Linked DNA regions of Homo sapiens. The protein of the gene in region 4 interacts with the protein of the main gene of each other region in a pairwise test. Each region holds a gene or a part of one and is shown on either strand. Other genes may lie near its edges. The genes, in order: APBB2, IKBIP, ATP6V1D and BBLN.

What was found.
Region 1: the proteins of BBLN (region 4) and APBB2 interact in binary tests that used the Homo sapiens proteins (3 or more experiments, as listed by UniProt).
Region 2: the proteins of BBLN (region 4) and IKBIP interact in binary tests that used the Homo sapiens proteins (3 or more experiments, as listed by UniProt).
Region 3: the proteins of BBLN (region 4) and ATP6V1D interact in binary tests that used the Homo sapiens proteins (3 or more experiments, as listed by UniProt).

Annotation. Positions count from the first base shown.
Region 1 is NC_000004.12:41,211,068-41,219,400, forward strand, and holds the start of APBB2 (amyloid beta precursor protein binding family B member 2), read right to left. Parts: upstream 3,476-8,333; 5' UTR 3,338-3,475; intron 1-3,337. UniProt on the Homo sapiens protein: Plays a role in the maintenance of lens transparency, and may also play a role in muscle cell strength. Involved in hippocampal neurite branching and neuromuscular junction formation, as a result plays a role in spatial memory functioning.
Region 2 is NC_000012.12:98,623,749-98,627,788, forward strand, and holds the end of IKBIP (inhibitor of nuclear factor kappa-B kinase-interacting protein), read right to left. Parts: intron 3,019-4,040; coding exon 2,182-3,018; 3' UTR 501-2,181; downstream 1-500. UniProt on the Homo sapiens protein: Target of p53/TP53 with pro-apoptotic function.
Region 3 is NC_000014.9:67,342,257-67,350,339, forward strand, and holds part of ATP6V1D (V-type proton ATPase subunit D), read right to left. Parts: intron 6,849-8,083; coding exon 6,781-6,848; intron 5,198-6,780; coding exon 5,153-5,197; intron 3,616-5,152; coding exon 3,512-3,615; intron 1,183-3,511; coding exon 1,116-1,182; intron 1-1,115. UniProt on the Homo sapiens protein: Subunit of the V1 complex of vacuolar(H+)-ATPase (V-ATPase), a multisubunit enzyme composed of a peripheral complex (V1) that hydrolyzes ATP and a membrane integral complex (V0) that translocates protons.
Region 4 is NC_000009.12:128,155,388-128,163,264, reverse strand, and holds the start of BBLN (bublin coiled-coil protein), read right to left. Parts: upstream 3,001-7,877; 5' UTR 2,858-3,000; coding exon 2,779-2,857; intron 1-2,778. UniProt on the Homo sapiens protein: Essential for intermediate filament organization in intestinal cells, interacts with intermediate filament and regulates intestinal lumen morphology.

The DNA.
Region 1 (8,333 bases), on a different chromosome or scaffold from region 4:
AACATGGTGAAACCCCATTTCTACTAAAATTACAAAAATTAGCCAGGCGTGGTGGCGGGCACCTGGAATCCCAGCTACTCAGGAGGCTGAGGCAGGAGAATTACTTGAACCTGGGAGGTGGAGGTTACAGTGAGCCAAGATCGCGCCACTACACTCCAGCCTGGGTGACAGACTGAAACTCTGTCTCAAAAATAATAATAATAATAATAATACTAGGCACTGAACAAATGCTGGTTTCCTAACCCCATGTAGGAAAATAAGTATTCCCCCCATAACCAGTAATAACTTATTACAATATTTTCCTAAAAGTCTGTCCCACCTGCTCCCCTCCCCCGCCCCCGGAAAACTTAAGGTGTTATATCACAAGGGTATTGTCCAGTTTTGTTTTGTTATTTATTTACTTATTTATTTATTTTATTTATGTATTTATTTTGAGACGGAGTCTCACCCTTTTGCCCAGGCTGGAGTGCAGTGGCGCGATCTTGGCTCACTGTAACCTCCACCTCCCAGGTTCAAGTGATTCTCCTGCCTCAGCTTTCCCAGTAGCTGGGATTACAGGCGGGAGCCACCACACCCGGCTAATTTTTGTATTTTTTTAGAGACGGGGGTTTTACCTCTTGGCCAGGCTGGTCTCAAACTCCTGACCTCAAGTGATCTGCCCGCCTCAGCTTCCCAAAGTGCTGTGATTATAGGTGTTAGCCACCGTACCCGGCCAGGTATTGTCTATTTTTAAAATGAAATTGAAAAAGGTACAGAGACACGACATACCATTTTTCTTATTTTTTCCTTCAACTTTTAAGTTCCAGGTACGTGTGCAGGATGTGCAGATTTGTTACACAGGTAAACATGTGCTATGGTGGTTTGATGCACAGATCAACCCATCACCTAGGTATTAAGCCCAGTATCTATTAGCTATTCTTCCTGATGCTCTCCCTTCCATTTTTCTTAAAAGATAAATTTAGATATCCAGTACTCAGGATAGTCCACACACATCATTATTCTAATATTATGACAAGGCTTTCAGTATTCATTCCTGTGGTAACAGAAAAATAAAAGAATTCAATGTTCATATGCTGTTTTTCTGGTGGCAGGAAAAGAAAACAGTCATCAAAAGGTTGAAACATGACAAAAAGTACCAGTTTAAAAATATTTTATGTTTGTACATGTGGATTCTTACAATATATGCAATAGTTTTTTCCCAAGTAATTTTGGAGTCAGTATTCACATTACTCCAGCTAAGTGTAAACACCAGTATTTTGCACTTTAGCTCATCAAGCTTTCTTTTTTTCAGAAACAGGATCTCACTCTGTTGCCCAGGCTGGAGTGCAGTGGCGTGATCATAGCTCACTACAGCCTCAAACTCCTAGGCTCAAGCAATCCTCCCACCTCACCATCCAGCTTTTCAATTACCACTTTATAAAAATTTCAGAAAGCCAGTTCACATTGGCTCCTTGAAGGTGAATTTATTCAGTTAAAAGTATCCATTAGAAGAGGGAATAAAAGCATAGGACCTAAAAACCTTCTGTGGAAAGGATCTCAACTTTAGAGTCGTCTCTCAAAGGCTCTCAGCAAATATCTAGAGACGTGGTTACATCCAGTTTACGAAGACTGTCGGTGACTTCGGGGTCATACAGTACATGGACAACGAAAGAACAGCAATTGAAATCTTGTACTTGTACCCCACCACCTTCCGCCCTATGATCAACCCACTGTACTCTACTGCCACCTGTGTTCTCTCGGCATTTCCCCAGCCTGGAGGTTTCCCCATTCTCGCCACAAATACCATCCTTCACGAACGATGCCATTTCTAGGATGTTGCAAGTTATGATAAACAACTGTTGAACAAATATTGCTTACAAGCTACAAGTTGAAAACGAGAAGGTTGCTACCTAAGTTCATGAAGAAATCCCCTTTCAAGGATTCCATCTGTTCCTAAAAGGCCAGCCACACAAATTCTAATACTCTGCATTATTATGGCCATTTGGGGACAAGATTTTAAATCTGAAACCATGACAAGAAAAAAAAAAAAAGCAAGATTTAAGAGAGTAAACTCCAGAAACAACAGATCAAACTGCCATTGTGTTTGTTTTTTTTAAATCAGTGAAATATTAAAACAAATGATAAACCCATGCCAACCTCACAAAGTTTCCTCATTCCTTGGAATTCAAACACCACCGATGGCATCATTTTATGATAATCCTTTGGGTATTTCACGTAAGTAATTAGACACAATGTAAAGCCAGTGACTGAGGGACTTAAACAAACTGTCCCCTCCGAGAGCCCAGTTGGAGCTTCCGACACTGACCTTATTCTCCTCTCAATTTTAACCCTCCTCAACCACTCAATCCATCCAAAAACGTCTGTGACAGTCGTGGCTCTAAAACCGCGCAGAACTTGACTACAGAACGGTCGGTGACAACTCCACATATGATTTATCCAAATTAATTTATTTTTTTGAATTCTAGTCCCATGCTCCCTCGGCTGTTTGCCCCGAACCCGTAGTCTACACCACTTCACCGACGTGAAGACCACCTTTCATTGTTTCTATGGGTCTCAGCATCCTTCCCTCCGTCCAGCTCTGTTCTCGCCGCACAAATGTCATTTCTAGCGTACCACCCTCCATTCCGCCCGGTGGGCAGCGCAGGGGCTTTCGGGTCCCAGTGGCCAGTTTCCTGGAGTCGGTCCCCTATGCACAGCCATTTTCTAGTTAAACGCTCTCTCTGCCACCGAGGGGGAAAAGGAACTTTTCCCCCCTTTCATGTCTCATGGGCTGGCCTCTGAACCCCTCGTGGAGAAGCCAACCCCGGCTCCAACTCCCCGGCAGGAGCGCGCTGCCGCCCAGGAGAGACAGCCGAGCGGCACAGCGGAGGCCGGTGCCAGGACAAGGGGGTGTGCGCTCTTCCCGCAGGCGCCCACCCTCACTTTTCCCCTCTGCAGTCCCCACCCGGGCGCACCGCCTCCAACCCGGTCTCCCCCGCCCCAGGCCCTGCCAAGCCGGGGCTGCTGAGGGAAAGAGGGCGCCGGGAAGCGGGAGGGATGGAAGTCAAGGAGAGTGAGCCCGCAGTCGCCGTGCCACTGGCCCTGCGGCGCGGGCGCAGGGCGCACGGGACTCCGCAGCAGGCGCCCCGCTGCAGATGCCGCGGCAGCTGCTGCAGGTGTGGCTGCGGCTGAGCGGGCAGCAGTGGCCGCGGAGCCCCGGGGCCGGGAGCAGAGGAGAAGCCGCCGGGGGAACCCGCAGCCGCTCGCCGCACGCTGCTGCCGCTACCCGGGTGTTTCCCCAGCACTCTCGTGCTGCCCCGGAATCCGGGGCAAAGGCAAGGAAGAAAGCTGGGCTCACCAGTGGTGCGCGCGGCGCTCGCCTCGGCTCCGGCGCCCAGCGGCTCTGCTCCAGTCTCGCCCTTCCCGGAGCGCCCAGATCAGATGCGGTTACAGCGCACTAGCTTCCTACTTGAGACCAGAACGGGCTCCGGCAACTGAGCATGCTCAGTGCCGTTCCGCGAGTCCCGCGCAGGGAGCGGCGCTGACGAGATTCCACTTCTCCAGGCTTTGGCAGCGGCTGCGCGAGGGAAGGCTGGAGGGACCCGGCGGGGAGGGGGCCGAATGGGAGAAAGGCGGGGCCGGGGGGTGGGGGCCGGGCAGAAGGAGGCGGGCCGCGCTCCCAGGGCGACCCCTGCAGGTGGAGGCGGCAGGGCCTGCGGGAGGCACCCTCCCCAATCGCCTGGGAACACGCAGGGAGGCAATGGGTCCCCCAGTAAGACCCAAAGGCAGGACGTGCAGTGCAGCCCGGGTATCCCCTCCGTGTGGCTGGTGTCTGTCTGCACCAAAAGGCAGTTGGGTTACCTTAGCCCTGGCTTTTCTCCCACACGCCAGCATTCCCTTGCAATAGGAAAATGTCCCCACAGGAGAGCTGCCCACACCCACCCAGGCTAACTGCAAGTTGTAGGCGACACCTTCTCCTTCCTTCTACCTCCTATCCCCACCCCCAGGCATATGCCGCACACACACTCTTCTTTGATCCGGAAATCACAAGATAATATCAGGGGAGAGATACAACTGCCGGAGAGGAAAAGGAGGTTTTCCTTTCCATTGCCAATAATATTATCTATAACTCTAATTGTAAGCGTGCAAACAAAGCCCTGATAAGAGTCGAGTCTCAGTAAACGGTAAACCGTGCTCTGCCCCAGACGCTGTGAATGACATCCCCAAAGTATCCTTAGGATTGCTCTTCACCAGGGCAGCGGTTGTCAAACTGGAGCCTGGATCAGAATCGCCTGGAGGGTTTGCTGAAGTACAAATCCCTGAGTCCCAATCTGTGTCTCTGAATGGGTAGATATGTGGTGGGGCCCAAGCATCTGTATATCTAACAAGTTCCCATGGGATGCTGATGCTGCTGGTGTGAGGACTATACACTTTAGAGAACCCTACCCATACACACACACACACACAGTCCTACCAAGGATCTCGAATTAAAAACTCACGTGATTCTTCCTATGAGGACTCTATGCAGTGGGGTGGGCATTACTTTATTCTTTCCTACATGAGTTTATTAAGGATCCACGAGGTCTTGTACTAGGCCTGAGGATAGTGGTGAATTTAAAAGCCCAGGCCCCTGCTTTCATGGAATTTATAGTCCGGCCGGGTGACAGACACCTATCAAATAATCACTCAAAACGGTTATTTCAAACAGGTAGAGTGCTGGGAGGGAAATGCACAAGGTGCGAATAGAGTGTATAGAGGGACCCTCATGCAGACTCAGTGAGGTTGTTACGAAGGGATGGGAGGGGGGCTGCCTTGTGGAAGGTGGTTTCTGACTTTTGCACTCCAATAACCTCTCCAATTAACAATTATCTCCCTCAGACCGAGCTGGAGGCCAGCAATCATGTCCCTCCTTCCTACAACATAAAAACAATACTGTCACAGAGAAATCCCTATAAATTCATGAAAAGTGTTTACTCTTGGGACTGAGTCTCTGCACCCCAAGATCCACCTAACACGTCCGTGGACCAAGGACAGTCGAGGGCCACAGTAGACCTCTTGGGGAAAATACAGGCTCTCTGAACTGGAGAGCCTGTGGTTCTTAGTCTGTGATCTTCAAGGCCAAAGAGGCAAGGAAACCAGCCCAAGACCACCATTCCCGTCAGGAGCGGAGATCGACCAGCCTCCAACCTTGCAGACGGGTCCTCTTTCCAAGGCACTCTATTCCCGGACCTCACAGCTCCCCTCAGATCCCCGGAACCCGGCCTGGCCACCCCGCTCTCTCTCGGGGGTCCGGGGTAGGTGAGCGGAGCCTGCCCCTCCCAGGTCGGTCTCTTCCCGACGGAGAGGAAAACCCGCGGTGGAGTCCGCGGCGGCGGGGGGGGGGGGGGGGGGGGGGGCGGGGCGGCGCGCGCAGGCGCAGAGGCCGCCAGGTTGGGCCGAGGAGGCGCCCTGCTCCACACCTGATGCAATCAGCCTTCCGGAAACGGGTCCCGCTGCCGCGCTCACCCAGGAAACACTTCCGCGCCCTCCTCTGGCCGCTGAGCTCCCGGGGACGGGTTCCCAAACTCCCCCGGCCCGACTTCGCCACGGGCGGTGTTCTGCGCCCCGTCGGGGATACGCCGGAGAAGTCGGGAAGTCACTGCCTGGGCACACAAAATCCCTGAAATGCCCTGACAGTGACGTCGAAACGGCCACCAAGCGTTGCGCAGCTGCAGGAGGAAATTCCCTTAATTATGAATTTACAGAGGGGACTGATCGGGGCCGGAGGGAAGGCTTTGACCCTTCCCTTGCTTCCTTCCTTCGTCCGCCTCCCAACACATTGTCTCTCTCACTGAAAGGAACGTTTAACAGCAGTTTTAAGGCAGTATGGAGAGGAATCTCCATGCCCTCTGTCTTGCTAAATATGTAACAGCACTTTAGCTTTGCTACATAAAGCTTTCCCACCGCGCGCTCATTTTATAAATACGTAATTGGTTTCTGCATACCTCATCATTTCAGTTTACAAAGAAAATCATTTCTCGTTTCACCACTTCATGCAATTTTTATATCTATTGTGAGTGGGTTTTTTTCTTCATGCTGACTCACCCATTAATTGTTTTCCAAGGAAATGAAATATCCAAGAATATTCCAAGAGCATGTTTTTTAAAGCATGGAAGTAAACGCTGTGAACAGTAGATAAAACTGACCTCTCTTAAGTCCCTTAAGGCCAAAGGTCCTCCTAGGGAGTTGGGGGAAGGAGGCAGATCCAAGGAATTTTATTTGGAAGGATACCTCAAGACCATTCTAGAATCAAATCAAGATCAACTCTTAGACTTTACAGATGACATTTACCTCTCTGTGGCCCAGAGAAATAAATGACTTCTTTATTTAGACAAACCAAAGGCAGAACTGGCACTTGAAGCCAGATTTCTCAAAATTCCAATCTAATGGGGAAAAAAAAATGTTTTTTGCACAAACACCGTAGGGAGTGCAATACTATATTACAATGCAGTTTTACAATCCAAAGATTACAAAATACAAAATAGGTGACAACAAAAGGGATCCTATTACTTGTTCCTGTGACGTCATTAGTCTTTAAATAGTCCATGATCAACAAATATCCAGCCACTTCTAAGTGGCATTGAATAGCCAGAGTCTAGGAATTAAATATTTCAATTAAACAGGTATGAGTCAGGTGCAGTGGCCCAAGCCTGTAGTACCAGCTACTGGGGAGGCTGAGGCAAGAGGGTACATGAGGCTGGACGTTCAAAGTTGCAGTAGGATCTTGCCTGTGAATAGCCACTGCACTCCAGCCTGAGCCACACAGCAAGACCTCATCTCAAAACAAAACAAAAAAAACAGTATAACTACAAAACATCAAGAAATCTTCTGTGCCAACATTAAGAACTTCTAGTATTATTATTTGATTGTGTGGTATATGTGCAACGGTTTGAGCTTAAACCAAGGGAATTTTAATGATCACAACAAAATATCACGGTCATGATTTTCTTCTGTAATGATTTTAAATACTTTAACAATTTAGTAATCAAAGTGAAATAAAAAACAACTCAAAACTCATGCCTGCAATAAGATAAAATCTAATTCTTCAAAACTCTGTCTACCTTCTTATCTTGAGGAATGAATTTCTTTTTGGAATGTTCTGACAGAGATCTGGAGGAACACCTTCTATTGAAGCAAAAATAGAGTTGAGTAAATGTCAAAATGCAGAGGTACAAAATACACACTGTCACACGGTACTAGTTTTAGAATAGCTAACTCTTACTGACTATTTAGCATGTGCCAGATACTGGCTAAGCATTTTCCATAGGTTATTTAACTCAATCCTCACAACTACCCTATAAATGAAGCACTATTATTATCCCTATTTTATGGATAGGGAAAGTGAGGCTTGCAAATGTGAAGCAGCTAACTCAAGGCACAAAATATTCATTGGCAGAACTGGGATTTGAACCCAGGCAGTTTTCCTGGAGCTTGAGCTCTTAAATAATACTATGTATGGAAAAATGTAAATACAGAGAAAATGACTATAATGATTCTCAGATAAGAAAGGAGAGGGAGTATTGTACTTACTCTCCTAAAGATAAAACATAGTAAAATAAGTTTGTAGTCCACACTAGGAAAAAACCTTTTGCTAGCTAATAAATTATGGTCCCCAAATATAGGACCAATATTACCCAGAGGTATGAGGCAGATGATCAAATATCGAGTGATTTTTCAGGGGTACCAGCAAGGCCTCTTCTCTGATGAACCCTCTACGCCTGACTGGTTTCTCTAGTCCTAAACCATCCAATATGGCAGTCACTAGCCACATATGCTTATTTAATCTGAAATCACTTAAAATCAGTTAGAATTAACTCTTCGGTTCCTCTTTCATACTAGCCACATTTCAAGTGCTCAGTAGCATATGGCCTAATGACTACTGTATTGGATAATGTAAGTAAAAAGCATTTGCATCACTGCAAAAAATTGTATTCAACAGTGCTGCTCTGGGCCTTAATGTCATTAGGGCAATCCTTTAATCTCTCTTCATACTGCACTATTCCTGGGAGGACCATGTTTCCATGGTCTACCTTCCCATTGAGCTTCAGTCCTATTTTTCCAAACTAAAATTATTATTAGAGTGTAGAAAGGTACAAAGAGGTACAAAGCATAAAGTCCCCTACTATCATGGAAAGAATAGGGGCACTGGAGTAAGACCTTATTTCACATTCCAGCTCTTAGTAGTTGTGTGACCTTGGGCAAGCTACTTTACCTCACTGAATCTCACTTTTCTTATCTGCAAAATGGGCATGTTAATTTTTTCATTATAGGTTTATTTAAGATTAAATAACATATGTAAAGCTTCTGGTAGGCCT
Region 2 (4,040 bases), on a different chromosome or scaffold from region 4:
TACAAAAATGTGTTTTAGGATATTGGTAATTTTCCCTAAAGAAAAGACTAACAATGTAATTTAATATTTGATACACAGGAAAGTTTTTGAAATTTTAAGCATCTGTGTTAAATAAATGAATGGAAGAAAGAGAGAAAGACAAATTAAGTACATCTAAATCTCTCTAATAATTTCTTAATAGGAAAACCTCTTCATAAATACAGGATATATCTATCTAGATATCTATACATACATACAAACGCATATATACTTTAATAGTTTTCTCATGTTATACTTGTAGAAGTGCAGTTTTCTTCCTTTCCCTTGTGTCATTATAGAGAACAGTAGCCACCTTGTTTCCATTTACTTTCAGTAACCATTACCATGGTATATATAAGTTCATAATAACCTCATATTAAATGTGGTGATCGGTGAGAAAAAAATATTTAAACGTAAAGGATATAAGATAAGAGATCACATTTGCCTTGACAGGATGGAGGTTAAAACAACAAAGTTCCAGCTTACTTTATAATCTATTTTATTACCATTAATATAAAAGTAAACAAATAGAATTTTGTCAGTGCACGCAAATAAGAGACATTCAGAAGTCAAGAAGTGTAATTTTAAGACTGCAAAAATTAATGCTATGCCCCTTAATAACAGAACTCTCCAGGCTTATTTTCATGATTCACGCTGTCTACCACAGGCCCTCCTAACTCCAGTGGAGAAGGAGTTTGGGGGTTCTCCAAAAACTTGCAAATTTACATATTAAAACTACTTGACCACAACTACCTTTTTGTAACTGACTGCTTTCAAGTTCTTTGTGTTTAATTCCATCAAAAACTGCATTATAAAACTGGTAAGGTTATTGACAAAGAAACAAGAACAAACTTCCATATTGCAGTTGACTACATTATATAATTTCAAATAAAATAAAATCAATTCATAAAACAAATTTAGTGGTGTGGTTTGGGAAATCTTTAAAATGACGTATTTTTAACTATCATAGTTATTATCATAATTAATTATCAGAGTTATGTTACTTTTCCCTCAAAACAGGCCACAGGCTTATTTTTATTTATTTATTTATTTATTGAGACAGAGTCTCACTTTGCCACTCAGGCTGGAGTGCAGTGGCGCGATCTCGGCTCACTGCAAGCTCTGCCTCCCGGGTTCACACCATTCTCCTGCCTCAGCCTCCTGAGTAGCTGGGACTACAGGCACCCACCACCACGCCTGGCTAATTTTTTGTATTTTTTAGTAGAGACAGGGTTTCACCCTGTTAGCCAGATGGTCTTGATCTCCTGACTTCGTGATCTGCCCACCTCGGCCTCCCAAAGTGCTAGGATTACAGGTGTGAGCCACTGCGCCTGGCCTATTTAAGTAAACCATCTAGAGACCATGGATCTAGCAAACTCATGTCTAACACAGTTGGAACCTAAAACTCAGGTATATAAAGATATTTCAAAGATTTATATACACATAATTCCTAAGAAAGGCCTTATGTAAGAACATACTTACTCTGATTTTAAAAGTCTTACAAGTATCTGTAACACAGTTTAGAACCTTAACAAAAACTAAAATGTTTCCCAGGCTTTAGAGTTTTCAGAAAGTGCATATTAATTCATAGCAAAGGCACCAGGCTCTCCCTCAGGCATGTTATCTTTTATTTTACACAAAATTCCCATGAACTTGGTTGTGTGGATTCTTAACCTGCAGTGAATTACCTAAGAAAGTGAACTGGCTGAGGCAGGCACATTACCAACCAACCTGACAGTAAGTTCAGGTGACAGAAAAGGTATGAGACATAGGTTTGAAAATGGCAAATTGGGGTCATTTAGTGAAGTGGTAAATACTCTTTATTAGCCCCTGGAGACATCAATATATGTGGGTACAATATAATAGGTGAAATTAATGATGATGTTCATTAATGCTTTAAAAAACATTAAAAATATTAAGTATCTTGTTTTAAAAGTAGAGAAATATTTTTAAAGAACTATTTCTATTTCAAATAGTTACAATGAAGTAAGTTTTAGTGCTTAAAAAGATAAGCTTTGATTATGTGGATAATCCATTTGTGTGGACATCTCATTTATTTTCCAATAATGTAGGATAAGATGAGGCGTATCAAAGTAACTCAAAATCAATGGACTAATCAATTTATGTATAATGATATGGTTCATCAGAATAAATGTCATGAATTTAAAAATCACCACCAATTCCTTTATTTTCTATATTATATTCTTTTAAAGTTCCCTTTTCTCCTGTACTTGAGTATGCTATAAAATCATGAACTTTTTCTTTTAGAATATCCAGTTCATTTTGCATCTTTAATATGCTATTATCATACTGAATTCCTTCAAGGGTTTTCTGCATCTCCATTATTTCAGACACTGCTTTCAGCATATCATCTTCCATATTAAACATCTGCATAGTCAAGTCTTCCATTTTCTTTTCTGTTTCTATCAGATCCTGAGAGACTCTGAGAACAGAGTGAATAGCACTTTCAATTGTTGGCAAATGTGTCTTGCATTCTTCAACTTTGGGTTCGTAGTCGGAAAGTTTATTAGTCAGATCTTCATCTCTGGCAAAGAGGGCATGCTGTTCCTCTTCTAACTTTTCAATTGCCTTTGTATCAGAGCCTAGCTGCTCCTCTACTCGCAGGAGATCTTCTTCTTCTTGTCTTTTTACTGTTCTAATATTTCTTAGTGTGCTATCTTCCAAATCTTTTAGCCGTTCAGTGAGCAATTTTATTTCCTGCTCAGCTGAGTTAATTTGGACAGTTACTTGAGAATGTATATGTTTTGCTTCTGATTTGAAAATGTCTGTATTAATGTTCATTTCTTCTAGGCTTCTCTTCCAGAAATCCGTAATATTCTGAAATTTCTCATTAAGGCTTTGCATCCTTTGAGTGAGCACCTCTTCATTATTTTGAATGTCATGCATGATATCTTGGAGGTTGGATACTTCCTGCTCAAACTGGGTCATCAAAGACATGGATGATGTAGCTTCCTGCAGGATGCTTTCAGTAGACTCAAGCTGCATTTATAACACAAAACAATTCCCAAGGCTACTTAATAATTTTCATATTAGAGAAACACACTTTAACAATCAGGAGCATAACACATGCCACGTTAAAATTCTGAAGATGTCTAAAATATCCAAGTATATCAGAATCAGACTGACAAAGATATTTATTACATTAATAGTTTTCACAAATACGTTAACCCTGCATTGTTTTATTTATTTATTTATTTTTTAGACGGAATCTCACCCTGTCACCCAGGATGGAGTGCAGTGGAGCAACCTCAGCTCACTGCAACCTCCGCCTCCCAGGTTCAACGTATTCTCTTGCCTCAGCTTCCTGAGTAGCTGGGATTACAGGTACGCGCCACTATGCCTAGCTAATTTTTGTATTTTTCGTAGAGATGGGGTTTCACCATGCTGGCCAGGCTGGTCTTGAACTGTTGACCTTTAGTGATCCGTCTGCCTCGGCCTCCCAAAGTACTAGAATTACAGGCGAGAGCTGCCGCGCCTGGCCAGCACTATGTTAAAAAAAAAAAAAAATACACCTGAACACACAATCCTAGATATTTCAGCATTTCTATGGAAGCATATACAAGAGAAAAGTAATGTTAAAGTGCCTGAAATAGATGCAATTTCCTCCTTTTAACTCTAATGGTAAGTAACTTTGATGTCAGTTTTCTTTTTCTTTTTTTTTTTTTTTTTGAGACGGAGTCTCGCTCTGTCGCCCAGGCTGGAGTGCAGTGGCGTGATCTCGGCTCACTGCAAGCTCCGCCTCCCAGGTTCAAGCCATTCTCCTGCCTCAGCCTCCTGAGTAGCTGGGACTACAGGCGCCCGCCACCACACCCGGCTAATTTTTTGTATTTTTAGTAGAGACGGGGTTTCACCGTGTCAGCGAGGATGGTCTCGATCCCCTGACCTCGTGATCCGCCCACCTCAGCCTCCCAAAGTGCTGGGATTACAGGCGTGAGCCACCGCGCCCAGCCCTCGATGTCATTTTTATGGTTTTTTGGCTTTTTAGAAACTGCAACTTTGTA
Region 3 (8,083 bases), on a different chromosome or scaffold from region 4:
GTATAATCCAACCATCCAAAAGAGTAACTACTGTAAACATGGTGGTGTATACCCTTCTAGTGTCTTTTCTATGCATAGATAACCTATTGGACCATAACAAATACAACACTGAATGTGCTGAATTCTATGAATATATAACATTGAAGCACAGATGTTATTTTAAATATAGTAGCAATCAACTGTTAAAAAATCGAGCAGAGAGAATGCTCGATTGAGTTTACGTCATTAGGCTCGACTTTACATAGTTTACCTGTTCAGCTTCTAGAATGTGAACTCTGAGGGTAAGAACTACGAATTATCCTTTTTTTTTTTTTTTTCTTTGCTTCCACTTTCATGTACAAGGCCTGGCACTAGCAAGCAGTCAAAAAGGTTTTTTAAAAAATGAGGTAACTTTCTCACTAACATTAATATAGTTAATATATAGTTAATATAACAGTTAATATATTTCTAACAATATAGTTAATATATCATATTATACATAGTTAATATAATAGTTAATATATTTCTCACTAGCATTAATATAGAAATTCCCAAGCAAAGGAATTTCTTTACTTCAAATTTTGCTTTCTTACCTAAAATTGAGTGTTTCTTTAATAAAAACTAAGTTTATTGAGCAAAAAGTACCATCAACACTAAGCAGTCATATTTTTTAAATAGTGAAATAAAAGAGATGGAAAATAAGTGCATCAAATGGGAAATTTTTTAGAAATCAAGGAGAATGGCTTATACTGATTTAAAGTTAAATATTTAATGTACTCAAAAAGTTGCATCACTCAACCATTAGAAAGAACTACAGAAAACACTAAGGATCTTGAGAAATATTCCTACCCTTAAATAACTGCATGAATAACTGGAAATGAAGAAAACATTCCATAATTTTTAAGTCACCACTTTCCTATGTGTGTAACTCCCCCAGATCATACAAGTACTTCTATCAGAACACTTCATAACACTTTTTTTTTTTACTATGGACACACTTCTCTCTTTGCACTGTGGGCAAGGGAAGCATCTTATTCATCTTTCAGTCTTCAGTACAGTCCCTGAATTCTAGCAGTTTCACGACAAGTGGAGGGTATGGACAAGTGACAAAGCACCTCACAGTACCTAATACTCACCATGTTCAATGGCATTTACACGCCTGTTGGTTATCTTAATAGCTTCATCCAAAGTAACAAAAGAAGTCTAAAATAAGAACAAATTAATAATGTAAGCACAAAGTCTTCCTAATCATTCCCTGATCACTTGACTCCACTAAGACTGCACTTGTAGAAAACATTTGAGAACCAAGACAACTTCTTTTTGGCATGCTTAAAAAACAAAATTCTTAGGCTGGGCGCATGGCTCACGCCTATAACCCCAATACTTTGGGAGGCTGAGGTGGGAGAATCACTTGAAGTTGGGAGTTCAAGACCAGCCTGGGCAACACAATGAGACCTTGCCTCTACAAGAAATAAATTTTAAAAATTAGCTGGGTGTAGTAGCATGCACCTGTAGTCCCAGCTGCTTGGTAATCTGTGATGGGAGGATCGTTTGAGGCTGCAGTGAGCTATTACTGTGCCACTGTACTCCAGCTTGGGTGACAGAGTAAGACCCTGTCTCTTCATAACAAAACAAAAACAAAATTCTTGTGAGATTTCCATAGGGCTAACACTATTTCCATGCTATTGATAACCTACATGTCACATTTGGTAGGTTTCCAAATTAACCTGCCTGGGCAGATTGAGGGATCTTATGATTCATGGTTTACATCCTGTCCCTGAGTAAGGAAATCTTAAGTTTCTCAGACTGCTGACATACTGATTAATATGCAACCTACTGACGCTGAAAATGACACTGATTTGTTTCTGATTCATGAAGTTTTACTTCATGATTTACTTGCATGTAGAACATTTTAGCTTGTATTTGTAATCTGTAGCCAATGATTGTGACCTCTGTATTGTACTCGCCAATGAAAAGGACAACTTGGGTATGAGGAGTCCTCCCTTCTCCTAAACTTTCCCATAAAAGCCTTCCAACTTGTAGCAGACTCTAGAACACACCCAACTTTGTTGGTGTCTTCCCGGGTCAATCCTCACATTTGGCTTTCAATAAACCTTTATCAAATCATTTCTGCTTCAACAGGCTTTACTTGAGTTGACACTATTATAATTTGTTTACTATAGTCTCACCTAAATAACAACATAAAAATGACAAGAAAGAATCAAGCATTAATAACCTAGATATATACTAACTGGCCACATAGGGGAAAAAATGGTCTTCCATGCACAAACGATGTTTATTTACATTTACATTTAAATCTAGTATCAACTTGCTATTCTTACTTAGCAAAGAGTGAAACTGGGCTGGGTGAGGTGGCTCACACTTATAATTCCAGCACTTTGGGAGGCTGAGATGGCAGGATTTCTTGAGGCCAGGAGTTTGAGACCAGCCTGGGCAACGTAGCAAGACCTCATCTCAACTAAAAAATTCAAAAATATTATCCAGGCGAGGTGGCACAAACTTGTAGTCCAAGCTACTTGGGAGGCTGAGGCGGGAGACTGCTTGAGCCCAGGAGATCCAGGCTGCAGTTAGCCAAGATCGCAACACTGCACTCCAGCCTGGGCAACAGAGCAAGATTCTGTCTCAAAGAAAAAAACAAACAAACAAACAAAAAAAACAAGAGTGTACCATAGCACATACATTTTGTTAACAAGAAGAAGCAGGGGCCGGGTGTGGTGGCTCATACCTATAATCCCAGCACTTTGGAAGGATGAGGCGGGCTGATTACTTGAGCCCAGGAGTTCGAGACCAGCCTGGACGACATGGTGAAACCCCACCTCTACAAAAAATACAAAAATTAGCTAGGTGTGATGGGGCATGCCTATAGTCCCAGCTACTCAGGAGGCTGAGGTGGGCGGATCACTTAAGCCCAGGAGGTTAAGGTTGCAGTGAGCTGGGATTATGCCACTGCACTCCAGCCTGGGTGACACAGTGAGACCCCATTTCGAAAAATAAATAAATTTTTAAATTAAAAGTAGGGGCCAGGTGCAGTGGCTCATGCCTGTAATCCTAGCACTTTGGGAGGCCGAGGCGGGTGGATCACCTGAAGTCAGGAGTTCGAGACCAGCCTGACAAACATGGCAAAACCCTGTCTCTACAAAAAATACAAAAGTTAGCCAGGCATGGTGGCACATGTCTGTAATCAGCTACTTGGGAGGCTGAGGCAGAAGAATCACTTGAACCCAGGAGGCAGAGGTTGCAGTGAGCCGAGGTCGCGCCATTGCACTCCAGCCTGGGCAACAAGAGTAAAACTCCATCTCAAAAAAATAAAAAATACATAAATTTTAAAAAGTAGGGACAATGGTACAAAAGCCATCACTTCAGAAATCAAAATATTATGTTTGCTTTACATAGGATCATGGGAACAGTTAAAAGTACAAAGCACAGTATATGCTGACTCAAGACCTGACTCTCCTCCACTTGACTGTTACAAATCAAACTACAGGAGTTCTCCAGGTCTTTTGCTACTTACCTGCAGAGAAGCTAGTTCCACCAGTAGTTCCACTGCTTTGGCATAATTCCTCTTTAATTTAGCCAACTGTTCCCCACCTCTGGCTAAACCAGTCAGTTCATAACCTGAAAGGACCAGTCAGACAACATTTTTAATTAGAGTAAAATATCTTCCCTATAAAATTCCCCAAAAGGAGATAATTCAGAATAATAACAAATATGGAAAGATGAATTCACTAATCTTCATTGAATGTAAACATGAAGTGCCTATCTCACTCCCCAAACACTATAGGAGCATGCTACTAAATACAGTTTCCCACAAGAATACTATTCTAAATATAACTACAAAGGAAGCTTTTAACCAACCTTCACTTCACTAGCTTGATGCCCCTTATTCCCTTTGAAAATCATACTGCCTGATGCCCAGAGTACGATGACACTCTGTGAACAGGTGACTCTCTCTAGAATGCTCTACTTCTTCGTATGAAATGTACTTAATATTCTATATGATTTAATTAAATATCACATGAAGCAAGGAAATACAAGTGCCAAAAGAAAGAATATTATTTGTTTATTTATTTATTGAGATGGGGTCTCACTCTGCCACCCAGGCTGGAGTGCAGTGGTGCGATCTCAGCTCACTGTAAGCTCCACTTCTCAGGCTCAAGCAATCCTCCCACCTCGGCCTCCCGAGTAGCTGGGACCACAGGCGCATGCCACCAGGCCCAGCTAATTTTTGTAACTTTTTGGGTGGAGACGGGGTTTCACCATGTTGCCCAGGCTGGTCTCAAACTCCTGGGCTAAGGTGATCCACCTGCCTCAGCCTCCCAAAGTGCTGGGATTGCAGGTGTGAGCCACTGTGCCTGGCCAAGAATATTGTTTCTATGAAAAAAGTTAATACTTTACTTTGGAAAGAAAATATGCTGTCAAACTAGGAATGGAATGAATAAGACAGTTATTTAAAAAGTGGAAGTGGGCTATAAAAATCTAGAAAGAATCAGCATTCAGGTTGCATCAGTGTCTAAGATCTTATTTGACTTTAAAGAGACCCAAACTGGGAATTATAAGCAGTGCATTGTGGGTGTAGGATATGCAGAAAAACAACACAGAAGTCTAATCAGTGAATTCATATTCAAAAGGCCTTATATTTTTTAAATAGCAAGTGATTCTACATTGATATATTTCTGATAAAATATTGAAATATTTTAAGATATGTATAATGTTTTATGACTTCCTAGCATAAGACCTTTTTCTTTTTTGAGACAAGGTTTTGCTCTGTAGCCCAGGCTGGAGTGCAGTGGCGTGATCAGAACTCGCTGCAACTACCTCCCCAGCTCAAGCAATCCTCCCTCCTCAGCCCTGGAAGTAGCTGAAACTACAGGCACGTGCCACCACACCTGGCTGATTTTTTATATTTTTTGTAGAGATGGAGATTTGCCTGCCTCAGCCTCCCAAAGTGCCAGTATTACAGGCATGAGCCATTGTGCCCGGCCTTAAGACCTTTTGATTAACTGATCAACTATTGTCCTGACTATATCAAATAAGAGGATTTCTAACTCAGGAACCTCTCAACATCTAGCACCATTTTCCAGAACTTAGTTCATTTAAAGAGGAAACAGGAAATCCCAGAGACACAAAGTAATACAAAAAGTTTCACACTTACTGTCAGTTCCTTCATGGTAATGTTCAAATACTGGCAAAGTAACACCTGTTAAACACAGAAGCATACATGGATTCATAAACCTTTAAGTTCTCTCTTTTTTTTTTTTTTCTGAGACGGAGTTTTGCTCTTGTCGCCGAGGCTGGAATGCAATGGCGTGATCTCGCCTCACCGCAACCTCTGCCTCCCAGGTTCAAGCAATTCTCCTGGTCAGCCTCCTGAATAGGTGGGATTACAGGCATGCACCACCACACCCGGCTAATTTTGTATTTTTAGTAGACACGGGGTTTCTCCATGTTGGTAAGGTTGGTCTTGAACTTCCGACCTCAGGTGATCCACCCGCCTAAACCTCCCAAAGTGCTGGGATTACAGGTATGAGCCACCGCGCCTGGCCTAAATTCTGTTTCTTAATCACTGTTTTCTGTGTTTCTTTTTCATCAAACTCAAAAATCAAGAGCTTAAGTATGGAATTGTAATTGGTTTCAATTAATGAATTTAGGAACTTGCCTTCTTTTTTTTTTTTTGAGACAGAGTCTCACTCTGTCGCCCAGGCTGCAGTGCAGTGGTGTGGTCTTCAGCTCACTGCAACCACCGCCTCCTGGGGTCAAGTGATTCTCCCACCTCAGCCTCCTGAGTAGCTGGGACAACAGGCACATGCCATGCCCAGCTAATTTTTTTTTTTTTTTAAAGATGAGTTTCGCTCTTGTTGCCTGGGCTGGAGTACAATGGCGCAATCTCGGCTCACCACAACCTCTGCCTCCTGGGTCCAAGTGAGTCTCCTGCCTCAGCCTCTCAAGTAGCTGGGATTACAGGCATGCGCTACCACGTCTGGCTTATTTTGTATTTTTAGTAGAGACAGGATTTCTCCATATTAGGCTGGTCTCGAACTCCCGACCTCAGGCGATCCGCCCACCTTGGCTTCCCAAAGCACTGGGATTACAGGTGTGAGCCATCACACCCGGCCTAATTTTTGTATTCTTTGGTAAAGATGGGGTTTCACCATGTTGGCCAGGCTGGTCTCGAACTCCTGACCTTGTGATCCGCCCACCTCAGCCTCCCAAAGTGCTGGGATTACAGGTGTGAGCCACCACATCCAGTGGAACCTGACTTCTTTATTTTTTTATTTTTTATTTTTAGACAGAGTCTTGCTCTGTCACCCAGGCTGGAGTGCAGTGGTGCAATCTCGGCTCACTGGAACCTCCGCTTCCCGGGTTCAAGCGATTCTCCTGCCTCAGCCTCCCAAGTAGCTGGGGCTACAGGCGCGTGCCACCAAACCTGGCTAATTTTTGTATTATTAGTAGAGATGGGGTTTCACCATGTTGGCCAGGCTGGTCTCGAACTCCTGACCTTGTGATTCGCCCACCTCGGCCTCCCAAAGTGCTGGGATTACAGGCATGAGCCACCGTGCCCAGCCGGAACCTGCCTTCTTAAGTGTTCACTTCTATACAAAAGTCAAGTTATCCTGAGTAATTAGAAACCTGGTTGTTAATGATTTTAACATGTAAAGCCAATCAACTTGTTCTAAGTAGAAGGAAGAAACTAGGACATTAAGATCTTGCTGTATAAACAGGTTAATTTTAAAATGTCACCTCTTTTCTCCCCAAAGGGTTTCTAAAAGGTTGAAACGTTACCTGCTACATTATCTTTCTTCGCTCGAATCTTCACTTGCGCTTTATTGACATTTTGGATAACTGTAGTGCTGCAGAAAAAGAGAAAGACTTTATTTAGCAGACTCTTCAGAAATAAACCTACAGGGACCCACTGGATAGTTTTAACATTAAATGAGACCAAGAGTGAGATGTCACAATTAAGTATGTTTTGATAACTGTCCTTTTTCCAAAAAGGGAGAAAAGTCATTACTGCTAGAGGAGGGCCTCTGAAAGCAGAGAATGAACAATATTCAAAACATTAGCAGTAAGAAAAGAACAAAGAATGATTTTAAAGTTCGTGGATTGCTTATGTTTTCAGTCAGAGGTGTGCTACATGGATATAACTTTAAGGATTCTTCTGCTAGTGTGAGATAGAGAAAACTCCTTTCTAGGTTTGCTATTGAATTGGTTAAGCTGGCGTTCAATTCCTTTACCCTGGAAACTATGTTCCATCTGGCTTTGTGTGACTTCTCAAATGTTACCAGAAAGTGCCTTCCTGGCAGGGTGCGATAGCTCACGCCTGTAATCCTGGCACTTTGGGAGGCCGAGGCAGGAGGATTGTTTGAGGCCAGGAGTTCAAAACCAGCCTGGGCAATGTGGTGAAACTCAAAAATACAAAAATTAGCCAGTCTCATAACCCAATCTCAAAACAAAACAAAAATAAATATTATAGAAAGTATCTTCCCCATAACCACCCTAAAACACTCACATACCACTTATACACTATTGATTGATCTCCACCCTCTGCTAGAAAATTCAATGCAAGCTGTGATCTTACCAGCACTGGCAAAAATGAAAGCCTACCACTTCAAAGGGCCTTATTAAGGCCCAAGAGCAGTGAAAGCTCCTAGATAATAGGCATCATGTCATTAGGAAAATAATAAAATCAGAAACCTTGAAAACAACTTCTGCCTCTGCCCCTAATTAGCCAAGTGACCTCAGGAAGGCATTTAATTAAAACTGAGAATAACAATGCTTGCCTTACCTATCTCATAGTGTTATTTGGAGAATTACATAACATATGTAAATTGGCATAACACATTTGCAAGCTATTTTGTATGCTTTGTAAAGGATTTACTGATGTCACCAAAGCCATGAAGTTCATGCCTTTTAAATAATCCAATTCTCAAAAATTTATCCTACGGGAATAATTCAGTAGAAACAAAAATACATATGTGTAAAAATGTTCACTGCACTTTCCCTAATATTCCAAAAAACTGAGAATTAACCCAAATACCCAGCATTAGGAGAAAAAAAAAATACATCTTGAGAAAGATCATACAGC
Region 4 (7,877 bases):
GAATGAATGACACTTTAGTACTGCATCCTTTTTTCTAGGGTTAGGGTGGTCATAGGGTGGCGAGCCAGTGTCCTACATGGGAAGTCCTGCCAGATGCCAAGTCTCTGCACTTCCTGCAGCAGCTGCTTAGTGGCCAGAGCCCACATTCCTGAGTTGGGCATTCAAGGCCTCTGTCCCCAGATGGGCCCTGTTCGCCAGCCCTTCTGTGGCTCCCTCAGGATAAAACACCCAGCGGAGTCTCCAGCCCCTGCCTCCTAGCTAGCCCTGCCTCCCTGCCTCTTCCTTTCCTCTCTCACACCTGCCTTTACCTACCTCAGGCCCTTTGAACATGCTGCTGTCTCTGCCTGGAAGGTGCTGGGTCCTCCCATCTTCCTTCCCTTCTCTCCTCCTGGATGAGTCCCACTCATCCTTCAAGTCTCAGTATGGATGTCACCACCGGGAGCCCACCCAATGCCCCAGACTGGATCAGGCCTCTATGCTGAGCCCCTAGCCCTCCTCAGCCCTCCACGACCTTCTCTCCAGGATTGACTGCTGTGCTTATCTGAGTGCTGTTATGTTTCCCCATGAAAGATGAACGGTCCTGTGTTCGCTGCTGGCTCCCTGGTGCCCTCACAGTTTTGCAATAAGCATTTGTTGAATGACTGAGTGAGTGAATGAATGAAGCCTCTGACTTTCCAGCCTCTCCGCCATTGCTCAACTATCCCTGCAACCTAGAATGCCTCAACCACAACAGCCCTTCAAGGACCAGCTCAAAATGCCTCCTCCAAGAAGCCTTCCCTGGTCTCCACTAGAAACCATCACTCCCTCCCCTCCACGGCCACTCCAGAGCTGCCCTGCTCAGCAACACAGTGTCCCTGAGGACTCAAGGTCTGGGCCTGTGCCCACTGCGGGACCCAGTTCTGAGCCAGCCCATGACTCACATACACTCAGCTGCCAGCTTGAGACCAAGGGGGAAGCAGCCGGTGGAGGAGCTGGAGGAGCGTATCTGGGTTATGGGTGCATATGTGCCTGTGTTCTAGGAAAGGGCACCCGTTGCCTAGAGCCAGCCACCCTCACAGACGACAGCGTCCTGGGAAATCGGCTGCATCTTAAAGTCCAACCCCCTCATGGTATATAGCTAGGGAAACCGAGGCCTCAGAAGGAAGGAACCTGCCCAGGGTCCTCCAGGTTGGTAACAGCCGAAACTCAGGATTGGACTTGGGGGTCAGGGTCACTTGGGTTTGAATTTCAGCTCTGCTTTACCCCAGCAAGTTGTACCTTTCTGGAAAAAAGGGAAAATAAAAAAGGTTGTGAGGATTCAAACACATCAAGAGTTCAGACAGTGGCCGGTGTGGTGGCTCACGCCTGTAATCCCAGTACTTTGGGAAGCCAAGGCGGGTGGATCACCTGAGGTCAGGAGTTCGAGACCAGCCTAGCCGACGTGGTGAAACATTGTCTCTACTAAAGATGTATAAAAATTAGCCAGGCGTGGTGGCAGGCGTCTGTAGTCCCAGCTACTCGGGAGGCTGAGGCATGAGAATCGCTTGAACCCAGAAGGCGGAGGTTGCAGTGAGCCAAGATCACGCCACTGTACTCCAGCCTGGGCAACAGAGCAAGACTCCGACTCAAAAAAAAAAAAAAAGCTCAGACAGGATCTGGCCACAGCAAGTACTTAGTGGATGGTCATTATTATCAATATTTCGAACTCTGTGTCCTGGGATACAGGCTAGGAGGAGGAATTGGGGAGGCAGGTGCCCCACACCCCTCCAGGCCAGGCTTTATCTGTGTCAAGGGTACTTCCCAGTTCCAAGCCTTTGCTTCTGCCTGGGACACCACCCTCCTCCCCACTGTTCTAAGTCCTGTCTGCCAACATCCACTTAATGTGACCTCCTGGGAAGCTCTTCCTGATGCTCCCAACAGCATTGCCCAATGCAGAGCTACCTGAAACTATTGTGATGGATGTACAACCCTGGGAATACACAAAAGCCTACTGAACTGTACAGTATGGGTAAGTTGTATAGCTCAATAAAGCTGTTACGCCAAACAAAACAAAGAGCATGCACCATACTTACACCACATTTACTAAATCCTCAGTGTATGTTAACATGCCAATCTTTACTATACCAAAGATAATAATGACGATAACCATTTACTGAACTCTTGCATGCTAGAACCTGCTAAGGATTTTCCTTTTTTTTGCATTTAATTCTGACACATCCCAGTGCAGCAGACACTAATCGTTATTCCTATTTTATAGAGGGGGAAACTGAGGCTGAAGAAGGTGAGAAGGGAGCCGATGGTTCTCTTCACACCCCACCCCTGCACTCGTAAGCACGCAAAAGGCTGCTCTGTAAGCTGCTGACATTTGGCAAGGCTGTGAGGCTACACCAGCAAAGCCGGGTGGCTGGGGATGCTGAATCGGCAGAGCGACGCCCCCGCGTCCCCAACTCCACGTCCCGGCCCGGCCCCTCCGCTAAGCTCAACCCTGCCTCCCTCAGGTGCCTCGGTCTCCCCCAGGACTGAAGGAAGTGGTGGAGCAAGGCCCACAAGGGCGAGTGTCCCCGAAGCTGCCTTAGTTTCCCCATCTGTAAAACGGGACTGGTGACCTGCAGCTCTCACGGGGCTGGGAACCGGCTCGCGGGTGCTCGCCCTGCATCCGAGACAGCACCTACAACTCCGGACCCGCTCGGGGCGGAATGGGTGGGCTCTTTGTTCCCTTCCGAGACCCCATCTCGATTCCCCTTCCCGGGAGGGCAGCCCTGAAAATGCAAGGTTGCTCCAGCAGCCCCCTCGGGTCACCTGCTTCCCCGAAGCCGTCCTCCTCGCCTTCCGCTCCCGCCTCCACCGGCATCCCCAGGTCTCCGTTGGGGCCCGACATTGCGGGCTCGGGCGCCCGAAGGGCCGCGCGACGATGGAACGCGGCGACCGTCGCGCCGAAAGCCGGCGCCGGATGGAAGGTGGAGGCGGCGGATAGAACACGGGCCGGAAGGGTAGAACGCGGCAGCAGATCTCCGCCCAGAGGCCGGTGCCCCGCCCCTGAAGCCGGAATCCCGCAGCTCCCGCTCCGCCCCGCCCCGCCCCCAGCCGGAACTCCGCCCCCGCCGCTGTTCTGGCCCCGCCCTACCTCCAGACTCCACCCCCACCACCGGACTCCCGCCTCCACCTCCCTCACAGTCGAACTCCGCCCATTCCGCCCCCGGCCTCGCCCCTCTCCCGGGCGCTGGGCGGGGCCACCACGGGGCTGCCCCTGGAAAAGCCCAGGAGTAGGGAGGTCCGGGAGGAGCGGCGGGAGACCGTCCAAGCCCATCTGCTGCTTCGGCCCCTCCGCGTTGGCGAAATCGAAAACGGGGTTTCCTTGTTATTTTTTGAGATAGGGCCTGGCCCTGTCTTCCAGGCTGGAATGCAGTGGGGTGATCTCTGCCTCCCAGCCTGAAGCGATCCTCCCACCTGAGCCTCCAGAGTAGCTGGGACTACAGACGGCTGCACCACGCTGGCTATTGTATTTTTTGGAGACGGGGGGGGGGGGGGGGGAGGGGTTTCGCCATGTTACCCAGGCTGCTCTCGAACTCCTGAGCTCGAGCCATCCACCCGCCTCAGCCTACCAAAATGCTGGGATTACAGGCACGAGCTACTGGGCCCAGCCTTGGAAACGGGGTTTCCACACCTCTTGTGGCTTCCGGATATACCTCTTGTGGCTTCCGGATATTCTTCTTCACAGCCTCGCTGAGAGTCACGAAGGGTCTCCTTCCTCTTTGCCTCTCTGCCTGCACCCCAGTGGAGAGGACCCAACACCCCTACCCCTGGATCTGGGCCTTCCTGGTCTTCAGCGCTTCTCTTAGGGCTCATTGGTTACAACCTGTGGGTGGGAATCAGGCTGGACTCCAGCTCTGGACAAGAGAAACAGGAACATTAGCTAGGCGGGGTGGCTCCCACCTGTAATCCCAGCGCTACGGGAGGCCGAGGTGGGAGGATTGCTTGAGCCTAGGAGTTGGAGACCAGCCTGGGAAACATAGTGAGACACCCTACTCCCACCCCCGCCCACTCAGCCCCCCCCACCCCCGTCTCTACAGAAAGCACAAAAAAAATTAGCCAGACCTGGTGGCATGCACCTTAGTTGCAGCTGTTTGGGAGGCTAAGGCAGGAGGATCACTTGGGCCCAGGAGTTCGAGGCTATAGTGAGCTATGACTGCACCACTGCACTACAGCCTGGGCAACAGAGTGAGACCCTGTCTTTAAAAAAAAAAAAATTAATTAATTAATTAAAAATAAAATGTTTAATTAGCCAGGTGTGGTGGTACACGCCTGTAGTCCCAGCTACTCAGGAGGCTGAGGCAGGAGAATCACTTGAACTGGGAGGCAGAAGTTGCAGTGAGCAGAGATCGTGCCCTTGCACTCCAGCCTAAGCAACAGAGCAAGACCCTGTCTCAAAAAAAAGAAAAAAAAAGGCCAGGCCTGGTGGCTCACGCCTGTAATCCCAGCACTTTGGGAGGCCGAGGCGGGCAGATCACGAGGTCAGGAGTTTGAGACCAGCCTGACCAACATGGTGAAAACCCGTCTCTACTAAAAATACAAAAATAAGCCGGGCGTGGTGGCGTGTGCCTGTAATCCCAGCTGCTCAGGAGGCTGAGGTGGGAGAATCACTTGAACCCACGAGGCAGAGGTTGCAGTGAGCTGAGACTGCACCACTGCACTCCAGCCTGGACAACAGAGCGAAAATCCGTCTCAAAAAATAAATAAATAAAAAGTTTGGCCTGGAGCAGACCTACCTTTGTTTGTTTGTTTGTTTTGAGACAGAGTCTTGCTCTGTTGCCCAGGCTGGAGTGCAGTGGCATGATCTCAGCTCACTGCAACCTCTCCTTCCCGGGTTCAAGCAATTCTTGTGCCTCGGCCTCCTGAGTAGCTGGGATTACATGTGCCTGCCACCACACCCAGCTAATTTTTTTTATTTTTAGTAGAGACGAGGTTTCACCATGTTGCCCTGGCTGGTCTCAAACTCCTGACTTCAGGTGATCCACCTGCCTTGGCTTCCCAAAATGCTGGGATTACAGGTGTGAGCCACCATGCCCGGCCTGGACCTACCTCTTTTTTTTTTTTTTTTTGAGACGGAGTCTTGCCCTGTCGCCAGGCTGGAGTGCAATGGCGCAATCTTGGCTCACTGCAACCTCCACATCCTGGGTTCAAGTGATTCTCCTGCCTCAGCCTCCTGAGTAGCTGGGACTACAGGCACACGCCACCACGCCCAGCTAATTTTTGTATTTTTAGTAGAGACGGGGTTTCACAATGTTTGTCAGAATGGTCTCGATCTCTTGACCTCGTGATCAGCCCACCTCGGCCTCCCAAAGTGCTGGGATTATAGGCATAAGCCACCGCGCCTGGTCCCTGGAGCTACCTTTTTAAGTTGAACTTTGAGAAGCCAAAGAGAAAAAAAGATTAAATAAAAATTTAATTTTTTTTTTTTTTTGAGACAGAGTCTCACTCTGTCACCCAGGCTGGAGTGCAGTGGTGCGACCTTGGCCCACTGCAACCTCTGCCTCCCGGGTTCAAGCAATTCTCCTGCCTCAGCCTCCCGAGTAGCTGGGATTACAGGTGTATGCCACCATGCCCGGCTAATTTTTGTATTTTTAGTTTCACCATATTGGCCAGGCTCGTCTCGAACTCCTGACCTCAGGTGATCCACCCGCCTTGGCCCCCCAGAGTGCTGGGATTACAAGTGTAAACCACCATTCCTGGCTAGATTTAATTTTTTAAAAAATAAAGAGAAGTAGGAATAGTTCATTTTAGGGAGAGCCCCTTAACTGGGACAGGGGCAGGACAGGGGTGAGGCTTCCCTTAGTTCAAGCTCACCTCAAACCCACCCAGGACTGTGTGTCACATTCTCCAATAAAGGAAAGGTTTGCTGCCCCCGCCTGTGAGTGCTGCAGTGGAGGGTAGAGGGCCGTGGGCAGAGTGCTTCATGGACTGCTCATCAAGAAAGGCTTCATGACAATCGGCCCAGCTGCTGTCATCCCACATTCTACTTCCAGCTAGGAGAAGGCGGCTTGCCCACAGTCACCCAGCCGGCAAGTGTCACCCCTGGGTTGGACCCAGAGCTATGATCCTGCCCAGGGGTCCAGCTGAGAATCAGGCCCACGTTCTAGGCAGAGGGGCTCACCTACTGGGACTCCAGTAGCTGTAGTGCATGGAGGCATCATGGCTGCAGCAGCCTGGACCTGGTCTCACACTGGCTGTCCCTGTGGGCAGGCCATCCTCAATGCCAGGTCAGGCCCAAGCATGTATCCCAGACAATGACAATGGGGTGGAATCCTCTCTTGTCCCAGAAGCCACCCTCACTGTTCTACCTGAGGAAGGCAGGGGCATGGTGGAATCTGAAGCCTGCTGTGAGGGTCTCCAGCGACTTGCACATGGTCAGCCCTGCCTTCTCCTCCCTGAACTAGATTGAGCGAGAGCAAGAAGGACATTGAACCAGCACCCAAAGAATTTTGGGGAACGGCCTCTCATCCAGGTCAGGCTCACCTCCTTTTTAAAATTTAATTAATTAATTAATTAATTTTTTTTTAGAGACAGAGTCTTACTGTGTGGCCCAGGCTGTAGTGCAGTGGCACAATCATAGTTCACTGCAGCCTCAAACTCCCCACCTCAGCCTCTGGATTAGCTGAGACTACAGGTGCACCACCACCACACCCAGCTAATATTTTTATTTTTGTAGAGAGAGGGTTTCACCATCTTGCCCAGGCTGGTCTCAAACTCCTGGGCTCAAGTGATCCTCCCACCTCAGCCTCCAGATTAGCTGAGATTACAGGCATACCACCACCACGCCTGGCTAATATTTTCAATTTTGTAGAGACAGAGTTTCACCATCTTGCCCAGGCTGGTCTCAAACTCCTGGACTCAAGTGATCTTCCCACCTCAGCCTCCCCACGTGCTCAGATTACAGATGTGAGCCATGGTGCCCAGCCTAGCCTGCCCTCCTTGGCTGAGAGTGAGGCCCTCAGCAGAGAAAGAGATTTGCTGATGCTCCACTGCCTTTGAAGGAGGAAGGAGCCACAGGCTAAGGGGTGCAAGGAAGATAGCATGAGAAGCTGGGAAGGGCAGGGAGCAGCTTCCCTGAGAGCCTCTGGAGGAAGCACAGCTCTGTGGACCCTCATTTCTGCCCAGTCAAACTGATTTCAAACTTCTGACCTCCAGAATATATAGGTGTTGTTTTAAACCCACAGTTTGTGGTGATTTATGATAGTGACACAGGATTTTTCTTGGTCATTCTGCCGGCCGGAGACCCCCAGCCAGTGACACCCCTGTCCAGGAAGATGTCAGCCCTGTTACCTGCTCTGGCCTGTGGCTCCAGAGCTGGCTCAACCCTAGCACTGTTACAGCTTTCTTTGTACCCTCACTTGGTGGGTCTCAAGCTCTTGTCCGGAGTCCAAGAAGAATGAGGATACGCTGACAATCAAAGGGTGAGGAGGACAGAGAATAATTTTGTTGAGTGATGGAACAACTCTCAGCAAAGAGGGGATGTGAGAGTGGTCCCGCACCCCAAGTTGGGCAGTCTCTCCCTCAGTGTGGCTGGGTCTAGGGCTTTTCTGGACTCAGAATGGGGAGTGCATGCTGATTGGCTTGTGAGTATGCAAAACGAAGGCTAAAACAAAGGCACCACTCAAAGGTGGGCATGACAGTGTAAAAAACCAATTAGGCACTTTGGGAGGCCAAGGGGGGGGCAGATCACAAGGTCAGGAGTTCGAGACCAGCCTGGCCAACATGGTGAAACCCCGTCTCTACTAAAAATACAAAAAAAAAATTAGCTAGGCATGGTGATGGGCACCTGTAATTACAGCTACTTGGGAGGCTGAGGCAGGAGAATCTCTTGAACCTGGGAAGTGGAGGTTGCAATGAGCCAAGATCAT